Regions from separate parts of the Homo sapiens genome. Here region 2 is linked to region 1. A link means that fine-mapping ties the variant in region 1 to the expression of a gene that starts in the linked region. Tissue or cell type: lung. Region 1 holds a variant in brackets; the other region holds the start of a gene. All regions are shown on one strand. Distances are between the middles of the regions.

Region 1 (2,677 bases):
GGGCTACACTACCTCCTGCGGGTGGAGCTGGCAGCCCACAAGTCCCTGGCCGGAGCAGAGCTGAAGACGCTCAAGGACTTTGTGACTGTCTTGGCCAAGGTTTGGGACGGTGCTGGTCTGGGCTGCATGTGGGAATTTGGCTCTGCACAGAGTGGGCCCTGGGGGGCGTCGGACACTGCGGGGGCTCCGCCAGCTCCGCTGAGGTGCTCTCCACCTTGCTTTGTCGCCCAGGCCCACGCCCCAACTCATTCCACCCATTTCCCGAGTGCCTCCTGCGTCCACTGCTGTTCCCAGCACTGGGGCTGGGGCGGTGGGTGTAGAGAGGGGCGGGGGTGTGAGCCGAGCACCTGCTGGAAAAGCCCAGCTCTGGCTGCCTGGAGAGTAGATGGAGGAGGGAGCGGAGGCCCACACACACCTCAGCTGGCTCTCAGAGGAGCGCTGCACGGGGGCTGGGGGGAGAGAGAGAGGGAGAGGCAAGGGCTGTGCAGATCCAGGTGGGGTGTGCATCTGCCCCACCAGCCAGGTTCAGGGAGGGGTCCTGGGAGCTTCACGCTCAGCACCATCACCAGCACAGATGTGGTGTCTGAGACCACTGAGGGGGTCGCCAGGAGCGGGCAGAGATGCCACCCAACAGAGCTCAGGCCTGGCCGTGCCCAGGGTCAGGCTGAAGAGGACCAGCCAGGGAGGTGGCCAGGTGTAACTCCATGAGCTCGGTTGCTTGTTACTGTCTAAATGACAAGAAGGCTTAGGCTTAAAATATTTATCTTGCCAAAAATAAGATGCATGATAGAATAATTTATAGTGAGCACTTTGGATAGAGTTTACTTACAAAGTGATTTGTGAAAAGTACAGGAAATCTTGAAGGACTGGAGGTGCCTCAGATGAATGCATGAACATTGCCCAGGCAGCTTTTTCCCCCACGGTGCCATCCAGAGTTCAGAAATCTCTAGCTGGCCTCATTTCCTTTAAGAAAGTGTCCTGCTAATCTGTCCATCATATTAGTGGAGGACAGTGTGGCTCTTAGTGGTGGTGGCCGCCGGCCAGCTAATTCGCTGGAGTCGCACAGCTGTCGCTAGGCAGACCTGCTCTCCTCTCCCGGCTTCTCCGTCTTCCCCTTAGTCTAGTTAGGCTTGGAGCTTTTACACTTGTGCTCTGGGCAACTCCTGAGGCCAGGGTATTAATAAGTTATTCTTAATATTTTTCTGAAGTTTACTTGGATGTCTAAAATAAATTTGATTCTGGTAAATTAATCATGGTACTTTTTAACCTGCACGGGAGAAAATATATTGGACTGAGCTGAAGATGCCGGCGTTTCTGGTCTGGCATCGCCACCTGTGAGCTTCAGCTCGGGTTTGAGGAACTCTTTTGGTGGCTGG[T/C]GTTTCTGGTCTGGCATTGCCACCCGTGAGATTTCAGCTCGGGTTTTCGGAGCTCTTTCGGCAGCCTATGTTTTGCACAGTTTGTGGTGCAGCAGCTGATCAGAGTTTCTCCTAAAAAGACAGAGCCCTGGGATCTTCTCAGCCAGACGCCTCCCCAAGCTGTGTTGATGTCGGCCAGCCTCACGGCCCACACAAGCCCATAGGCAGTTAGCCCCGGCTGCCGGCGCATGTGCACTGCCGCGCGCCCTTCATACAGTCAGTGACGGCAGAGGGGAAGCCCAGCGGGCGGGCAGGCGGGGTCAGCACAGCTCCTCGTGAGGAAGGCAGAATAAATCAGCAAGCCCCCGCCAGCTCCATGATGAGTCACACACCGTGACCTTGCCTGTCACCTGGCCGGAGCGAGGCCGTGGGCGCAGGTGGGTGAGCTGCAGGCACGGGCTGGAGAAAGGCATGGCCGTGGGCACAGGCTGTCCTGGGGAGAGGCGCAGGCTAGATGCCCACCCCATGGCCCCTTGGGTTTCCTGCCTCCCATCAGAGAAACCCGAGTTATGAGAGGCCCCATCCTAGGTTCAGCCCCTCTGCGGATGGAGTGCTTCTCTTTGGAGGTGCGGTGCCCCCCGCGGTGGGGGCGGGCCCGGGTTTGGGTCTGTAGCTCTCAGGTGGCTCCTTCCTCATGCAGCTGTTCCCTGGACGGCCGCCAGTCAAGAAGCTGTTGGAGATGCTGCAGGAGTGGCTGGCCAGCCTTCCCCTGGACAGGATCCCCTACAACGCCGTGCTTGACCTGGTCAACAACAAGATGCGGGTGAGCCCCAGAACCCTCGCCAGCCACGCTGCACCCTCCTTCCCTCGCCTTCCTTCCCTTGCCCTTAGCTGGTGCATCTCCCTGCTCGGGGCCCGGGCTCCGCTGTGAGGAAGGGGAGCAGTGACTTACTGTCTCCACGACAGCATCATGGCCATGGCCTCCTGTCTGCCTTGGCAGCGTCATGCTGGGACTTCAGTTTAAGGACAGCTCACCAAAAGTGCACTGTGACCACCTGTCCTTTGGACAAAATGGGGTTTTCTCAAGCAACGTAGTAGTTGGGCTTTTTAAATTTTTAGTAAGCCAATCTGACGAAAACTGATGTATTCAGTAAGTGTGGCAGCCTTTCCAGAGCTTTCCCCAAGACCAGGTGCCAGCAGGTGCCAGTCTTTGCTCAGGGGACCAGCACCCCAAGAGGTCCTGGCACTCCGTCCTGCCATTCCCTCCTTAGTCCAGATCAGCAGCTTCTCTGTGGCCCCCAGAGTGTTTACTCGCGGGCAGT
Region 2 (2,677 bases), 29 kb before region 1:
TGCCTCTCACCCCTCCCCGGAGTCCCTCCAGCTTGTGGAAGGAGGCGGCGGCCCCTCCCAGGTCCCCTGCTTCCCCTCCTGCCCCTCCTACTCTGCAACTAGAAGGGCAGAGCTGCATCCTTGCACCGATCCTTCCGTGGCCACCCCCCCATTCAGCATCAAAGTCTGAGTCTGCGGCCCAGGTTGTGAGGCCCCCTGGGTCTCGCTCGGGCTCTCAGCTTTTCTTCCCTCCCACGCTTCCCCCAGCTTGCTCCGCTCCCACCAGGTCCGGCTCCTTGCTGTTCCTCCAGCGTGCTCAGCACCCTTCTGCCCCAGGGCCTTTGCATGTGTGCCTCCTCCCTCACCTCCTTCTCCATTCGGGTCACCTTCTCAAAGACCTCCCCACCCTCCTCTGTACGGCAGCCCTGCTGGCACCTGCTTCCGTGTCCGGCTTCATTGCTTTTCATAGCACGCGGTGGCTGCTTTACGCGTTGGTTTGTTTGGGGTCTGCCCAAATGCAGGCCAGGGACACTGGGGGCTCGGTTTTGTTCTTGATTTGTCTCCAGGGCTTGGCACAGAGCAGAAGCCAGGAAACGTGGGTGATGGAAGGAAACATGAACAGGGAGACGCAGGACGTGAGGAAAAGGGAGCAGACGCCTTGGCCAGGGGCCCTCTGGGGAGAATCCTCTCATCTGGGGTTAACCATTGTTAGCAGCAAAACCTTTTAAACAAAATCTTACACAGAACCCCACAATACAGTTATCTATTTATTTTGAGACAAGGTCTCGCTCTGTCATCCAGGCTGGAGTGCAGTGGCAGAGTCACGGCTCACTGCAGCCTCAAGCTCCCAGGCTCAAGCCATCCTCCACCTTAGCCCCTCAAGTAGCTGGGACTACAGGTGTGCACCACCATGCCCGGCTTTTTTCTTTTTTTTAAGAGATGGGCTCTCGCTATGTTGCCCAGGCTCGCCCACTCCCTTGTTTTGTTTTGGTCACACAGTTCAGAGAAAATCTTGACATGTGTAAAAATTAGGAATAGGAACAAAAAAAAAAATCAGGTATCCTGTTCAATGAAGCAAAAAAGTCATATGATTTCATTTCCAAACCGTGAAGCTGCATTCGACTGGAACATCCTAAAAGGTAGCACACAACACATCTGACTTTGAGTGGATGTTTTGCTGCATTTTCTAAGCGTTCCAATATCATATTAAAAAGTCGAGGCTGGCTTGCAGACCCTCTGAAGCCCCAGGTGGGGTTGCCAAGTAAAAGAACCCCGGAATAGTTTTTTACGTCTAAGAATGTCTTGTTAAATTTGTATTTCAGGCATGGCACAGACCTAGGCTGAAAAACCGACTCACTGTTTGTCTGAAATTCACGTTGAACCTGGCGTCGTGCACTTCCATTTGCTAAATGTGGCCACCTGGCCCTGTTCAGGGAAGGGGTTTGGGGAACGCGCGGCGGGGTGGGGCGGGGCCTGGGCGGAGCCTGCCGCGCCTGGGCGGGGAGATGGCGTCATCAGACTCTTGGGGGCGGGGCTGCCACGCATGGGCGGGGGCGGGGGCGGGGAGAGAGGGCGGGGTCAGACGTGAGGGGGCGGGGCGGAACAGAACTGGGCGCGCGGGGGCGGGGCCGGGCGCGCCGGCGCACGTGACGGTGGTTGCCAGGGTGAAAGTTCAGCGCGCCGGCGGCACTTCCAACATGGCGGCGGCCGGGGCGGCGGTGGCGCGCAGCCCGGGAATCGGAGCGGGACCTGCGCTGAGAGCCCGGCGCTCGCCCCCGCCGCGGGCCGCACGGCTGCCGCGGCTGCTAGTGCTGCTAGCGGCGGCGGCGGTGGGGCCGGGCGCGGGCGGTGCGGCGCGGCTGTACCGCGCGGGCGAGGACGCCGTGTGGGTGCTGGACAGCGGCAGCGTGCGCGGGGCCACCGCCAACAGCTCGGCCGCGTGGCTCGTGCAGTTCTACTCGTCGTGGTGTGGCCACTGCATCGGCTACGCGCCCACTTGGCGGGCCCTGGCTGGGGATGTGCGAGGTGAGGCGCGCCCCCGCGCGGGGACCCCCCGACCCCCGGGACCGCGGCCTTCCGGGACCCCTTGCGACCGCCCCAGAAGGCGGGTCCCGGGGCCCCTCCCCCGTATTTCTTTCCTTACCGCAGAGCCAGTCCCTGCCCCACAGAGGCACCCGACTCGGACCAACCCTGGCCTTTCCAGGGGCGGGAGACTAAGCCAGCTGCTCCCCATGTCTCTCCCAGTTAATCCCCGTTAGATCCTGACGAGTTGGGCTGTCTGAAGTCAAAATGAAACCATTCTCCCGCAGCCCTCACCGCACGCTTGGGGATAGGGAAGCCCTCCCGTATCCCAGCTCTCAAAATACCTATGTTTTGAGCCCCAAGAACTTCATTGACCTTCCAGGCCTCCTACCCTACCTGTTTCCTAGCGTCCACACACCCCATCCCCAGTGCCCAGAATTCCTGTTCTCTGAGGATCCCTCATTCCTATTCCACACTCGTAGCCACCCCATTCCCTTTGAACCTTCATCATTAACTTTCTGGTTCGGATCGCTGGCCATATAGTGGGTGCTCAAAGTGAACCCACAACTTAGAAGTCCAAATACTCTGGAGACTTCTCTATAATACCCCAAAACAACCTATAAAGCAATTTTTTTAACTCTACAAAGAATTTCATTGGTGGGCTCCTTGATCACAG

What was found. PIP is the estimated chance that this variant, and not a neighbour inherited with it, causes the effect.
Region 2: it holds the start of QSOX2, and the variant in region 1 is fine-mapped to the expression of QSOX2 in lung (TOPMed, PIP above 0.99).

What each region holds. Positions count from the first base shown.
Region 1 is chr9:136,216,101-136,218,777 of GRCh38, reverse strand. It overlaps QSOX2 (quiescin sulfhydryl oxidase 2), which reads left to right. Exons shown (of 12, transcript NM_181701.4): 8 at 1-99; 9 at 2,056-2,178. Among named protein-coding and RNA genes, the nearest start is that of LHX3, 12 kb to the right of the region's middle. RefSeq lists an enhancer at 2,268-2,677. The variant T/C (reference allele first, on the strand shown) is at 1,377.
Region 2 is chr9:136,244,803-136,247,479 of GRCh38, reverse strand. QSOX2 (quiescin sulfhydryl oxidase 2) reads left to right here and starts at 1,668. Exons shown (of 12, transcript NM_181701.4): 1 at 1,668-2,004. The coding sequence starts at 1,677. RefSeq lists silencers at 1,431-1,700, 1,731-2,140.